Linked DNA regions of Homo sapiens: region 1 is linked to region 2. A link means that fine-mapping ties the variant in region 2 to the expression of a gene that starts in the linked region. Tissue or cell type: whole blood. Region 2 holds a variant in brackets; the other region holds the start of a gene. All regions are shown on one strand. Distances are from middle to middle.

Evidence for each region. PIP is the estimated chance that this variant, and not a neighbour inherited with it, causes the effect.
Region 1: KBTBD6-DT starts here. The variant in region 2 is fine-mapped to the expression of KBTBD6-DT in whole blood (TOPMed, PIP above 0.99).

Annotation. Positions count from the first base shown.
Region 1 is chr13:41,128,306-41,136,404 of GRCh38, forward strand. KBTBD6-DT (KBTBD6 divergent transcript) reads left to right here and starts at 4,623. Exons shown (of 4, transcript NR_120423.1): 1 at 4,623-4,750. KBTBD6 (kelch repeat and BTB domain containing 6) reads right to left here and starts at 4,497. Exons shown (of 1, transcript NM_152903.5): 1 at 1-4,497. The coding sequence starts at 4,206. The coding sequence ends at 2,182. RefSeq lists enhancers at 4,150-4,199, 4,560-4,799.
Region 2 is chr13:41,097,216-41,105,324 of GRCh38, forward strand. MIR3168 (microRNA 3168) reads right to left here and starts at 3,885; the gene lies at 3,804-3,885. The variant T/A (reference allele first, on the strand shown) is at 3,594.

The sequences.
Region 1 (8,099 bases), 31 kb after region 2:
ATGTAGACCATAAGCATCTGGTCATTCATCATGTACATGTATCATGTCAACCATTATATATTAAATCTTCAAGAGGTAAGTACTTCTGTTTTAGTGTGTTTAACAATGTCAGTTTCGTGGGATTTAGTCTCTGTTCCAGGACCTTCTCTTACATTATGGTAACAGAAAAACAAAGACTGGAGCATGGTTTACAGAGAAATACAAAACACATACAAACATCATAATAAAATAGCCATTTATATCACTATTAGAGAAATATTTTAGAGAAAACATACTTTCACTAGTGGCCTCAAATGCCATCATCCACTTATGTTCTTTAACTATCAACTTTGTTTTTCTAAGAGATGGGATCTCGTTCTGTTGCCAAAGCTGGAGTGCTGAGACATGATCATAGCTGCAGTGAGCTATGATTATAGCTGCAGATGATAGCTGCAGCCCCGAACTCCTAGACTCAAGTGATCCTACATTCAAGTGATCCTCCCAAGTAACTGGGACTCAGACTTGGGCCACCATGCCCAGACATATTTTTTATTTTTGTAGAGATGGGGTTTTGCTATGTTGCCCAGGCTGGTCTCAAACTCCTGGGCTGAAGCAATCCTCCCACCTCAGCCCCGAGTTGCTAGGATTACAGGCATGAGCCACTACACCCAGCAACTGTCAACTTGTAATACAAAAATACCTTCAAGCTGATAATCAAGAACATTTAGTGACTTTAAAAAGCTGACAGAATATTTCCATGCTACACAAAACAGTTCTATACACAGCTTTACAGTTTTAAAGTTCTTTGCTGGCACTTGACTTTATAGTTAACACAATGACTACTGATATCAACGAAATACTGTTTTTAGCTTATATATATTTTCAAAATCAGTATTACCTCACAAAACAGTAAAGAAATATCACTTCTGCTGAAGAATCCTCTAAGATGAACACCAAAACTGTACAGCTAAAACATATTGAGAATCATGTAAATGTTTAAGGCAATAGATAAAAATTTATACAATCCAGTGAAATTTATACATGTCCAGCAGAAAAAAAAGGATTATTCCTGATTAAATGAAGCATGTATCAGGTTTAGATCAACAATACAAACCTACAAAGCAAGTTACTTCTTTTTTAAGGTTTTTTGATGATTTGGTGACACAACTAGAATATAACCTTTTAGATGAAAATTGGTGACTTTGCAAATACACATTCTAAATTCCAAAATTAAAACGAAACTTCTTTTCAAACAGTAGAATCCTGGTTTGTTGTTTTTACTGTCAATGAGCTTATAGCTATTCTCTGTATTATTATAAATGAAGTCACCACTCAGTCACCCTAATACACATATGGTTTTTTTTCTTTTTTTTTTTTCCTTTTTTTTTTTTTTTTTTTTTTGAGACGGAGTCTCACTCTGTCATCCAGGCTGGAGTGCAGTGGCCCAGTCTCGGCTCTCTGCAGCCTCTGACTCCCGGGTTTCAGCAATTCTCCTGCCTCAGCCTCCTGGGTAGCTGGGATTACAGGCGCATGCCACCACGCCCAGCTAATTTTTGTATTTTTAGTAGAGACGGGGTTTCACCATGTTGGCCAGGCTGGTCTTGAACTGACCTCAGGTGATCCACCTGCCTCGGCCTCCCAAAGTGCTAGGATTACAGGCGTGAGCCACCGCGCCCAGCCTGCATTTTTTTCTTCATAGAAGAAAACAAAAGTAAAACTTCCCAAATTATGTTTAACTTATAACACATTTTGTAAAGACCCCTTAGGTTAACCATTTTGGAAGTCTACATTGTTCTGAAGAAAAAGATATGCTTTCAAAACACTATCTAGCAATTCCTAATCATTTTTCTATTATAAAAATTAAAATTCAAAAGTTATTGCCACAGTGCTTGTGGCAGTAAACAGAATGTAAAATGTATCAAAAGACTAAATTAGTGTCATGAAACATAAACATACTAAATAATCAAATAAATACTGGACCCTTAGCACAGAAAATTATTAAAAGGTTGATTTGAGTGTTAAAATTTGTAACATTAAATTACCTTCGTATTTCAAACATTACTTTTTCTAAACCAAACCAGAAGTTAATCAACTTTTCCTCTCCTTTAGGAACAAAAAGGATATTTAAGATATTTTCCAAAACAGTAAAAACAACTTAGTGTTTCAATCTAGTTACAACAAACCCTGTTGATCCTGTGCATTTCACTGAGGCGCTACACGCACCCAAAAATCATCATCAGAAAGAGAACTTGAACTTCCTGACTCAGAGTCTGGCTCACTGAATCCACCTAAGTCCCATTCAGTGCTAGACTCACTTGGTATTTCTTCTTCTTCAGTGAGGAAACTCTGACCAGGTTCAAGGCAGGAAGGATAAACACGAGCAGAGAGGCAAAAAAAGTTAGAATCAAACTGCAAGAGGCCTAATGTGGTACCTATATTAATCCATTGGTCTCCCCTAATATCATATTCATACACAGTCACCCGGTTCTTTTTCCACTGTGGGGTGCGAGAGGTGATGAGCAACAATTTTTGGCCATGCTTGATAATTCTGTAGTTGTTGGTCTCTGAGACCAAGGGAATATTATTCATTTGCCTCCATTCTGCCCTAACTGGGTTGTAGACCTTCATGACTGGGATATCACAGATACAATAGATCTCCTCATTGAAGACGCAGGCTTCCTGAAAGTCATTGCGCTTCAGAGAAACGCACTTCAGCCACATATTGTGGCTAGGATCATAACAGAACATGCGCTTACTGTTGAGAGCATAGAGATAGTCTCGAATTACCATTAGGTCAAAGGATAAAAAAGAATGGGGCAGTGGAGCCACCAATGCCCACTGGTTTCTCTTAACATTGTAGCATTCCACTTCCTTCAACTTAACTCCAGTAATAGGGTCTCGCCCCCCCAAAATGTAGATATAGCCATTGAGATATGCCACATCCATGCCCTCACGACACAGCAAGCGATCTGCAAGTTGCTGCCAACTATTCTGAGCTGGTTTATACACCCAGAGGTCTGTCCTGGGCTGAGCAGCTAGATAGATGTCATGGTCAGGAGAGATACAGACAGCTAAAGTGGTGACAGTCCTAGTGTGAGCCAGACAGGTCAAAGGTGACGGCACTTTGTAAAGGTCCCCCGAGTATGGATCACAGCAGAGAAAGGGATCTCTGGGGTGTCCAAAGAAGATCACCATCTCCTTGGCACACATACCCAGTCTCTGGGGTGGATTTTCTGCTGCAGATACAAGAGAGTTGCTGCTGCTACTGCTGCTGCTGCTGTTTGGCACTGGCACCAGAGACTTGTACAACAGGTCACCATAGCGCATCTGCAGGGCCCCTTCAATAACGTCCAGGCAGTACTTCTTCACGATGGGCTTGGTCAGCAGCCCTTCTAAGTAGTCCTGATCTTCTTCAGTGAAGTGCATCCAGCGCACGCACTTGAAGACTTCTGCAGCACTGGGACCCCGCTCTTTGGGAGCAGCCTCCAGCCACTGCACTGCCACATGGCACACTGTCTGCTCACTCTCCACGTCCAGACTATCCAAGCGCAGGACAGCCAGCAGCTGGGCCAGGGTCAGATCTGCTAGAGTCTCCTCCCGAATTGAACCCATGTGGCTGAGTTGCTTGAAGTTCTGAGCTATATAGGACTGGGCCTGGGATCGCAGCTTGCGATGGCCAAAGGCATCTGCAAACTTGAGGATGGCGGTGCAGTTGGTCAGGTCAAGACGTCGGGCTAAGAAGGAGGCACAGGCTTCCCGCACATATTCCAGCTGTAGCATGTCGGAGGCCGCGTACAGGCGCTCCACGTTGGCCTCACTGAGAGACACACGACCCGTGTAGCAGTAGTCGACCAACACCTCGAAGGACTCGGCGTCCACATCGTGCATGGTCACGCTGGCCTGCTGGCTCTCGTACATGCCACCTGTGAACATGCTCTTGAAGTAGGGACATGCCGCGGCCAGCACATTGCGGTTGCAGGGGAACAGGCGACCCGTGCCAGGCCCGCTGCCAGGCGTCACCACCTCGATGGTCACATCACACAGCAGCCGCGCATCGTAGAAGGACTTGAGCTGTGCCAGCAGGGCTGCAGAATGGGCCGTGTCCTTTAATTCCTCTGGACCCGTGAAAAAGGCCGAAACTGTGGGTTTGTGAATCTTCTTGGGCCGCTTCCCACCACGGGGACTGGCTAGGCGGCGAGAGCGCGGGGCGTCTTCCCGGGACTGCATGGTGGAGATGGCGACGGGCGCTGATGGCGAGAAACGCTGCAGGACCCGGCTCTGGCTCCTCCTCAACCTTCCCTCGCTGACGCTAAGATAGCAGCGTCTCCGAAGAGACAGCAGCACGAGCCCATTTACTGAATTCAACCCTACCCCGCAGAACCGCCTCCCGTTATCGTTTAGACAGTGGCTGACTCACCCTCTCTCACTCCCGCGTCCTTTCTCCGCGTCTGCTCGCCTTCACAGGACCCGCTGGCTTGGAGCCGCAGAAGCCGCTACTGCAGCGTGGGCGACAATGCTAGGCGCCCAGGAGAACTACCGCTCCCAGGTTGCCTTTCGCGCCCCGAGGGCTGCTGGGACTCTCGGACTCCCGGGCCGAGACCGAGGGAAAGAATCCGCTTTGCATGTCGGGAGTAGTAGTTTGTGTAATATCGCGATCCTTCTCTGGTGTTCCTTGTTTTAGCTGACGACACTCGAGAGCGCCAATTTTCCTAGATTCGATTTTGTGGTTTGGAACTGTGGTTTTGGAATCCAGAGTAGTCGCCTCGTTCTAGTATGTATTGTTTGACTTGTCTCTTTGAACTGTTTCTTCTTTTGTAAGACGTGAACAGTAGTATTTCATAGGATTGTGTGAAGATTACATGAGTTGGTTATAGGACGCTGTTAATAAATATTTGTTGGTTTGTAGAATAATTACTCAGTTCTTAGAATTATAAAGGTTCGATAAGTTTTCTTCCAGCCTTTATTAAAAAAAAAAAAAGGAAGCACCACTAATTTGAAATTATGAGCCTGTAGGAAAACAAAAAACCCCCCAAAACAGAAAACCTTGCAAGTTCCAGCAGAGATCCCTTTTTAGGGGCGTGTGTGTGTGTGTGTGTAAATTAGATTTTATTTTTAGGTTTACGGAAAAATTGAGCAGCAGGGACAGGGAACTTCCATATATCTCTCCCCACTTCACAGTTCCCTTATTATTAACATCTTGTATTAGTGTATGTATCCATTAGAAGTGATTTTTTTTTTTTTTTTTTTTTTACTCACTATGCCTCTCCCTGGTACCAAAAGATAACTCAGGGTTTGTAGGATTGGTTGGCTATCGCTGGAATTAGATCCCTGGCTTTTTCACAATTGCCTGTCCTTATTTGCCATGACTAAAAGGAGACCACCTCCAGTCACCTGACTTTGAGACTTTCCTTCCATATCTGCATTTCAAAACCTGAAGTCCTCTGTAGCCACTTCTCCCACTTGGTCTCTCCAATATTCAGTACCCCTTTCCCTTTTTTACACAAAAGAAGAGACATGCTTTAGGGGGTCCTCACCCCAAAACACAATGGAAGCCAGAGGCCTGGTTGGTAATTTAGCATCCTTTTAGACCCAGTGGCTCAAGCATTTCTCCCCTTGCTTGTATGAAGTTGCCTCTCCATCAGAGCTGACTTTATTTCTAGTCATTCACTCAACCTTTACTTACCCCGTGCAGTTCAGACATTAGAAGTCACTGAGAACACCTAACACGTTTCCGCTTCGGACTCACCTCCTGTGAAACCCTGCCACTGTCTTCCTCTCTCATCACTGTCCACCGTAGTCAAAACAATCAAGCCACTCTTCTTCCCATTCCCTCTGAAGGACAACCTTGTGACTGAATCACCGTCACACAGTCATTCACATTTCCTCACTCTGACATCACCAGAACTCCTCTCAGAGACCTTGATATCACCTTTGTAGATGGTTCTTACCTCAGGAGTACAAATGGGGAATTTTAAGCAGGATACACTATTGCAGATTTTCAACAGCCTATTAAGTTGAAATCTCCACTTAAGTTAACATGGCCCAAATCATTGAATTCTTAAGCACTCACCCAAACTTGCATGTTAGCACAAGATAAGGGAACTAACATTTATAGAGACAGCCAGTTTACTTTTGGAATTGCACGTTATTTTGGTATGCTATGGAAAGAAAGAGGTTTATGACAACTGAGGAGTACCACTCAGAACCCAACTCACTAACTTATTTAAGTCTTTTTTTTTTTTTTTTGAGATGGAGTCTCGCTCTTGTCACCCAGGCTGGAGTTGCAGTGGCGCGGTCTTGGCTCACTGCAACCTCCGCCTCCCGGGTTCAAGCGATTCTCCTGCCTCAGCCTCCTGAGTAGCTAGGATTACAGACACCCACCACCATGACCGGCTAATTTTTTTTTTTTTTTTTTTACTTTTAGTTGAGATGGGGTTTCGCCACGTTGGCCAGGCTGGTCTCAAAATCCTGACCTCAGGTAATCCACCCGCCTCGGCCTCCCAAAGTGCTGGGATTACAAGCGTGAGCCACCGCGCCCAGCCCCCCTGTTTAAGTCCTTACAGCTATCCAGAAATTAGCCATTCTCAAAAATCAAAGCTCACACTAGTGGCTGGACTAACAAAGCTAAAGGAAACTTAACTGGCTGAAAATATGCTAAGGTTGCTGCTTCCCAAGAAAACACCTCCTGAATCACGTGTATACTTCTCCTTGCTCAACCTACTCTAAAGACAGAAACTCTTAAGAAACTTAAGATATAACAGCTGCTAGCACCTGAGGCTGAAAAAGCAAAAAAGCAACAAGCTGGATGTTTTTTCTACTCAGATGGGCTTTGGAGACACCTAGACATCATTGATTTCTCTTGGTCCCTCACCCAAAATTTATTCTGCAGCCTCCATGAGATTACACATTATGGCAAAGAAAATCTTTCTCCGCAAATATTGTTGGGGATGCCCTAATACTGAGCAGTTAACTTCAACTTGCCCCATCTGCCAGAAACACAATCCTAGTCAACATGTAAAGTGGGACAAGCATGAGAGTCAACTCTCTCTAGTCCTTGTTTTCATTGGAAAATATATCAACTCTCAAAGTCTTATGGGTACAAATATGTTTTAACCATAGTTGGCATGTTTTCAGCATGGTTAAAAGCTTTTCTCTGTAAACAAGCTACTATCACCACTGAAGTTAACCTGATACCAGAAAGAATTTTCCCCTCCTAGGGATCTCTGTTTTTTTTAATAACAGTGGAGGAACTCACTTCAGTAGTAAGGTTATTCAGGATCTTCAACAAGTACTTCCAATGTTACAAAAACTGCAGTCTCCTTACCAGTCCTCTGGAAAATGAAACAAGCAGGCCAGTGGTACCGTTATATTCAAACTAGCCAAACTCTTTAAGGAACTCAACCTGCCCAGAGTCTCATGCCTAATGGCCCTTGACTCTTCTATTATCCCCAATTTCTCAGCATGTACTAAATGAAACTTAATTCTTAACATGATTAATGAGTCTCTTGAAATCTCCAAACTCAATGACTCCACTTTTTCAGGATCAAGTGTAGGAAAAAATGTAGGAGCACTTTTATCCCTAATAATAACCATTTTCTCTTCCACCACTTCCCAACCAGCCTTACAAACTGCGTTCAGTTCCACACAAAGACTCTGCTCTTCTGAGGGATCTACCCAGTTGTTAATCCCAGTAATTGTTAATAATTACTATACCTCAGACCCCACCTGTTTCCCCATAGGATACCACTTTTCATGCCTTCCCCAAGGGCATTTGGACTGATTGTCTGGGACTTCAAAATATTTAAAGCTGCTATCCCACCTGTCAATGGTGTGTCCTTCTGGAATTACCTCCAAATTGAGGCAACTACAGGGAATTGGGGAAAACCTCCCAGGGATATCAATGATTCTCTTTTCATATGCACCATGAGGGCCCTTGACACCCACTATGGCATTAATACAGTTAAAAAGGATAGTTCAAAAAAAAAAGAAAAGGTAGTTCAAGCCTCTCCTTAACCTTTGTAGAAGAAAATTATACCACTTTGGCCCTAGAAGTACAGAAAATAAGTTTAAACGCACAGGTCCAAATTGTTATGGCCAATCCTACAACTTTCAACTTCCTT
Region 2 (8,109 bases):
TTTGTAATGAAATCTTTTCCCATGCCTATATCCTGAATGATGTTGCCTAGATTTTTTTCTAGGGTTTTTATAGTTTTGGGTTTTACATTTAAGTCTTTAATCTGTCGTGAGTTAATTTTTGTATATGGTGTAAGGAAGGGTTCCAGTTTCAATTTTCTGCATATGGCTAGCCAGTTCTCCCAGTACCATTTATTAAATAGGGAATCCTTTCCCATTGCTTGTTTTGGTCAGGATTGTTGAAGATCAGATTGCTGTAGGTGTGTGGTCTTATTTCTGGGTTCTCTATTCTGTTCCATTGACCTGTCTGTTCTTGTACCAGTACCATGCTGCTTTGGTTACTGTAGCCTTGTAGCATAGTTTGAAATCAGGTAGCATAATGCTCCAGCTTTGTTCTTTTTGCTTAGGATTGGCTTGGTTATTCAGGCTTTTTTTTTTTTGGTTCCATATGAATTTTAAAATAGTTTTTTCTAATTCTGTGAAGAATGTCAATGGTAGTTTAATGGGAATAGCATTGAATCTATAAATTACTTGGAGCTTATGGCCATTTTCATATTGATTCTTCCTATCCATGAGCATGGAATTTTTCTCCATTTGTTTTTATTCCCTCTGATTTATCTGAGCAGTGGTTTGTAGTTCTCCTCAAAGAGGTTCTTCACTTCCTTGTTAGCTGTATTCCTAGGTATTTTATTCTTTTTGTAGCAATTGCGAATGGGAGTTCATTCATGATTTGGCTCTCTGCTTGCCTGTTGTTGGCGTGTAGGAATGCTAGTGATTTTTGTACATTAATTTTATATCCTGAGACTTTGTTGAAGTTGTTTAGCAGCTTAAGAAGCTTTTGGGCTGAGACTATGGGGCTTTCTAGATATAAGATCATGTCATCTGCAAACAAAGATAATTTGACTTCCTCTCTTCCTATTTGAATACCCTTTATTTATTCCTCTTGCATGATTGCCCTGGCCATGACTTCTAATACTATGTTGAATAGGAGTGGTAAGAGAGGGCATCCTTGTCTTGTGCTGGTTTTCAAAGGGAATGCTTTCACCTTCTAAAGCCTTTTAAAATAAACTTCCACTCCTGCTCTGAAACTTGCCTGTCTCTTTTTCTGCCTTATGCCTCTCAGTTGAATGCTTTCTTCTGAGGAGGTAAGATTGAGGTTGCTGTAGCCGCATAGGGATTTACTGCTGATAACTCAGATACCAACCAGTAACATTATCGTTAGCTAAAATAGTCCACCTGTTTCCCATGAGGAGTAGTCTTGTATTGTTTACAACAGTCCCAATGCCTGCCACTTAGACAACAGAATACTTTTGAGCCTCATTCAACTTTGGTGCCTGTGCTTTGAGAATGTAGTATTTGAGGTCACATTTACCATCCAAAAATTTCCATACATTTGAGGGACCACATACTCTCTATAGGTGTTTGGATTGTGCCTTAGCACTGAGGATTGCAGGTCACTGATTCATAGCTACCTAAGATTCCACTTGTAAAAACATAGACATGAGCCCTTTTGGGTTAGAGTACATGATTGTTCCCACCTTTGCATTTAGGAGTAAGTTTTCATGTTTGGTCTGGTTTCTTCTATCCATTTGATGAGTACTAGATTATCTTTTAAGGCAACTTCCCATCCTTTTCCCTTGTCTTGGAATAGCATTCCTTTTATGTGGCCTATTTTTTACATGGAATTTTTCTCTAAGGAATGCCTCTCTACATTCCTACATTACATTAGCTATAAACTCACCTTGCCCCAGTATACCTAGCGCAGCTTCAATTTTTCCAATGAGGTTGCATTCTAGTCTTTTGGGTGGCCAATTCTGATGTCTCCAGGAATGCTGTTGCCATAATATGCTAATGGAATTAGTGCAATTTGGATAAATGAAGTTAATCCAGAACTGTTGGGTGTCCCAAACAATTGTTAGGTGGGTGGAGGCCTACCAAAGTGCTGGAATCACAAGTTTTTGTTTTTTTTTTGTTTTTTGCTTTTTTTTTTACACAGAGTCACAAGTTTTGTTTTGTTTTGTTTTCACACAGAGTCCTGCCCTGACGCCCAGGCTGGAGTGCAGTGGCATGATCTTGGCTCACTGCAAACTCCGCCTCCCAAGCTCAAGCAATTCTCTTGCCTCTGCCTCACGAGGAGCTGGGACTATAAGAGTGCACCACAACGCCCAGCTAATTTTTTTGTGTATATATATATATATATACACAAATATATATATACAAACACATGCATATATATACATATATATATATGTATATATATATATTTTTTGTTGTTTTTGAGACGGAGTCTTGCTCTGTCGCCCAGGCTGGAGTGCAGTGGCGCGATCTCGGCACACTACCAGCTCCGTCTCTCAGGTTCACGCCATTCTCCTGTCTCAGCCTCCCGAGTAGCTGGGACTACAGGCGCCTGCCACTACACCCGGCTAATTTTTTTTTTTATATTTTTAGTAGAGACGGGGTTTCACCGTGTTAGCCAGGATGGTCTCGATCTCCTGACCTCGTGATCTGCCCACCTTGGCCTCCCAAAGTGCTGGGATTATAGGCGTGAACCACCGTGCCCAGCCTTTTTTGTATTTTTTTAGTAGAGAAGGGGTTTCACCATGTTGGCCAGGGTGGCCTGGAACCCCTGACATCTAGTGATCCACCCTCCTTGGCCTCCCAAAGTGCTGGGATTACAATCATGAGCCACCACGCCTGGCCATCCAGCCACGTTTTTCTTATATAGGGTTCTTGTCAATGTAAAGACTAAGCTCAGTTGTATCTATGTGCAGACGGGCAGACAGCATGACAAAATTTATTATTTTACTGATTTAATGAAAACTATGCTTGACCTTTTGGTGTGTAAGTACATTAAAGCATAACTATAATTATGTGAAAGGATACATTGTTATGGGGATCAGGACATCTGGACTTTCTGTTGTTGTAGGAGTTTGTCCTTACAGGCATTATCAAGCTGCTTTCTTAATTGTAAACATATCAGGACCATGGGTTGTCACTGGCAAGGAATGTGCCTTGCTAGTTTTAAGATGGGGTTGATTTTTCAATGGTGTCACTGGCTCTCCTAGGCTCCTGCTTCCCTAATAAGAGGACTGCTTGAGGCCAGGAGTTTGATGCCACCCTGGGCAAAATATTGATACCTTGTCACTACAAAAAAAAAATTAGCTAGATGTGGCAGTGTGTGCTTGTGGTCCTGGCTACTGGAAGGCTGAGGCAGGAGGATTGCTTGACCCCAGGTGTTGGAGACTGCAGTGAGCTATGATCGTGCCACTGCACTTCAGCCTCAGAGACAGAATGAGACCCTGTTTCTTTCCCTCTTTTTTTGGCTTCATATTTTGTAATATTTTATTTGAGCACTGAAAAATTCTAGAAGTTACATAAATATAAGTAACTCATTTTACAGATTAAAAATTTGAGATTGAAATATTAGGCAACTTGCATGAGGTCAAAACGTGGCAAGATACAGAACAGAGACTGAACATACGACTCAAGATTTTCTGCATGTTTTACATTGGTGGGCTCAAATTTATTCAAATGACAGAGCCTCTAAGTGTTATGGTGTCCCTTGAGAAACATCTGCTTAATTCACAAGACTACAT[T/A]ATATGTACACAATATGAGAATCATGAGAACATATGTCCATGTCAAAAACATATGTCCATGTCAAAACTGTCTGCTAAAAGAAATATGAACTATTTATAAGTTTTCCATGAATATTCATATAGCAATTAATAATCAATTTACTACAACCCTATGAGACAGATACTAGTATTACCCTCCTTTTGCAGATAAGAAAATGGCATAGAGAAGTTAAGTCACTGGCCCAGGGTCACACAGCAAGAAGTGAAGATGAGCCTCCAACTCAGGCTGTCTGACTGTAGAACTCATGATCTTTAAGCATTATTCCATCATTTTGTCATCAATGAGGAGGAACAAAAACATTTACACATTAGTTCGTATGTGTGTTTCTCTGTGAGAGACCCTATTTCTAAAAAAAAAAAAAAAAGAATTTGTTGAAAGGACGCCACATGCAAAATTGATTGGAAGGGCAAACAACCAGTTCAGAAAATGTGAAAGAACAAATATTTCTCTGGCAGCCAGAACTAAAGCAAAACTCAAGTCAGTGCAAATATCAATAAGTCTGATAACACATTTCTAGGAGGGATGGGTGAAATGGCACCATTATATATTGCTGGTGTAGCATAAATGGGCATAACTTCTCCAGAAGGCACTTCTGTAATACCTTGTCAAAATTCCAAATGCCAAATGTACACACCTTTTGAGAAATTGCTTCTAAAAATATTTTGGCATAGAAGTGAAATAATGTAAGTAGAAGAGTATTCACAACAGCACTGTTTGTAATGGCAAAAGATTATAAGTCACTTAAATGTCCACCAATGGAAACTTAGTGGATTATGATACATTTTTACAATGTCTACTCTGAAGATAAAAAAAAAAGAGTGAGCAGGTCCTTGATGTACTCATATGGGACATGCTACATAGCATTAGAAGCAGTTTATATACGTAAAATATATATGTATTTTACATACGTACAAAAATACACACATGTAAATGAAAAACAAAACTATAAGCCCTCAAATGACTAAATGGACCCCCTCTTAGCCAAGAAGACACCAGAGAAATCTTAAAAATTAGTTCCTGGCCATGACAGGAAAGGAGGTCAGAAAGGCCTCAAGACATCCCCTCCCTTTTGGAATTTAGGCACAACTGACTAGCAATAATGTTACAATAGAAATCAAAAGACTGACAGAACAAACTCTGTGGCAATAAAATACCAAATTATAAACAGGACCTAAAGCCATGCAAGGCAAGGGTTAGGTCACACCTGCAGGCCATCTGTCTTGATAAGTAGGTCATTTTGACCCAGTATATTGAAGCTTGCTCTCACAACCGGACTCTGACACAGCATCCTTATCCCAATTTCAACATTCCTTTCTGCTAACTCCAAGTTTTTAGACAAAGCTTTGTTCCTTTAACCCACTGCAAATTTAAAAAATCTCTGAACCCACTGTGACCTGTAAGCCCCTGCTTCAAGATATCTCATGTTTTCGGGCTAAACTAGTGTATAACCTCCATGTATTGATTTACGGTTTTGGCTGTAACTTTTGCTTCCCTAAAATGTATAAAACAAAGTTACATTCTTGAACTCCTGATCTCAAGTGATCCGCCTCCCTAGGCCTCCCATAGCGCTGGGAGTATAGGCTTGAGCCACCACTCACCGCCATAGACAAAGTTACATTCTGACTGCCTCAGGACCACTTACTCAAGGCTTCTTGGGTTTGTGTTTTCCCTGGGCCTCCATCACTCATACTGGCTCAGAATAAACCTTAAAATACTTCACAGGGCCAGGCATGGTGGATCAAGCCTATGATCCCAGCACTTTGGGAGGCCAAGGTGGGGGAATTGCTTGAGCCCAGGAATTTGAGACCAGCCTAGGCAACATAGTGAGACTCCATCTCTTAAAAAAAATATATATATATATATATTTTAGTGTGTGTGTGTATATATATATAATGTGTATATATATATTATATATATATTTATATATATATATAAAATATATATATACACATTATATATATATTTTATATATATATATATAAATATATATATAATATATATATACACATTATATATATATACACACACACACACACATAAGCCAGGCACGGTGGCTCATGCCTGTAATCCCAGCACTTTGGGAGGCTGAAGTGGGCAGATCACAAGGTCAGAGTTCAAGACCAGCCTGGCCAATATGGTGAAACCCCGTCTCTACTAAAAATATAAAAATAAGCTGGGTGTGGTGGCACATGCCTGTAGTCCCAGCTACTCGGGAGGCCGAGGCAGAAGAATCGCTTGAACCCAGGAGGCAGAGGTTGCAGTGAGCCAAGATCACACCACTGTACTCCAGCCTGGGTGACAGAGTGACACTCTGTCTAAAAAAAAAAAAAAAAAAAAAAAATTAAAAATTAGGCTGGTGTGGTGGTGTGTGTCAGTAGTCCCAGCTACAGGAGGCTGAGGTGGGAGGGTCATGTGAGCCCAGGAGTCTGACAGTCTGAGGCTGCAGTGAGCCATGATCATGCCACTGTACTCCAGCCTGGGTGACAGTGAGATTCTGACTCCCAAAAATAAAATACAATATTTTACAGTTTGTTTGTTTGATTTTAGGTCTGGCTTTATACCCCAGGCTGGAGTGCAGTGGTGCCATCTTGGCTCACTGCAACCTCTGCCTCCTAGGTGCAGGCCATCCTCCCACCTCAGCCTCCCAAGTAGCTGGGACTACAGGCACGTGCCACCATGCCAGGCTAATTTTAGTATTTTTTTGTAGAGATGGGGTTTCTCCATGTTGCCCAGGCTGGTCTTGAACTCATGAGCTCAAGCAATTCGACCATCTCGGCCTCCCAAAGTGCTGGGATTACAGGTGTGAGCCACTGCACCCAGTGGTTTTTTCTGTTGACATATAGTATGCTGCAATTTTAGTAAAACAAAACATGGGCAGAAAAGATATGTGTACTGTCATATATATGCATAAAATAAGCCTGAAAGGATACACACAAAATTGATAACACTGGAAAAGAAAACTAGGAGTATATTCATCAAGGACTTCCAGAGAGACAGAACCAATAAGATGGCTGGATAGATGGATAGGTAGATAGACACACAGATGATTGATGGATGGATAGATAGATAGATAGATAGATAGATAGATAGATAGATAGATGAGTGGAACTGGCTTATTAGGGAACTCCCCTTATTAGGGGAACTGGCTCATGAGATTATGGAGGCTGTGAAGTCCCACTGCAGCTGGAAAGTCTGGGATCCTGGTCATGTGGCTCAGTCCAAGTCTAAATGTCTCAAACCAGGGGAACTGATGGTGTAACTCAACTCTCAGCCTGAGAAGGCAGGGGACTGCCTGCATCAGTCCTGGAGTCCAAAGAGCCTGGAGTTCTGATGTCCAAGGACCAGAGCAGAGCATCTCAGCTTTAGCAGAGAGCGGAAATTGCCCTTCTTCTGCCTTTTTTTCCCATCTGGCTAATTGGACTGTGTCTGCCCACATTGAGGGGAGATCTTCCAATTCAATCAGATTTAGCTGCCAATCTCCTCTGGAAACACCCAGAAATAATGCTTTACCAGTACTCTAGGTATTCCTTAATTCAATTAAGCTGATGCGTAATATTAACTATCATAAGGTGTTTAAGAAACGGGGGACCAGGCACGGTGGCTCACACCTGTAATCCCAGCACTTTGGGAGGCCGAGGCAGGTGGATCACGAGGTCAGGAGTTTGAGACCAGCCTGGCCAGAAACCCCATCTCTACTAAAAATAGAAAAAGTAGCTGGGTGTGATGGTGTGTGCCTGTAGTCCCAGCTACTCAGGAGGCTGAGGCAGAAGAGTCGCTTGAACCAGGGAGGTAGAGGTTGCAGTGAGCTGAGATCACGCCACTGTACTCCAGCCTGGACAACAGAGTGAGACTCCGTCTAAAAAAAAAAAGGAAAAACAGGGATAAGATGGACAGGAGAGACCTTTTACTGTATATTCTTTATATGCTTTGGATTTTGAACCAACTTTAATACCAATTTGAAACATCAGTAAAAAGTCACATTAAAGATTCTTGTTAATTGGCCAGGCATGGTGGTTCACGCCTATAATCCCAGCACTTTGGGAGGCCAAGGTGTGTGGATGATCACTTGAGGTCAGTGGTTCGAGACCAGCCTGGCCAACATGGTGAAACCCCATCTATACTAAAAATACAAAATCTAGTTGGGTGTGGTGGCACATGCCTGTAATCTCAGCTACTAGGGGCGCTGAGGCAGGAGAATCGCTTGAACCTGGGAGGTGTAGGTTGTAGTGAGCTGAGATTGTGCCACTGCACTATAGCCTGGGCAACAGAGTGAGACTCTGTCTCCAAAAAAAAAAAAAAAAAAAAATTATTGTTAATTTGTTAATACACTTCTAATGCAGCTCCAGAACATGGATGTTACTACTGCTGCCACCACCAGAATGAATTCTAAATACCTTGCTTCTTTGTGTCACTTGTTGAGATTCAAAATCCTGGAAAAGACCACACGTGTTCACAACTCATTTCCACAGCCTCTCT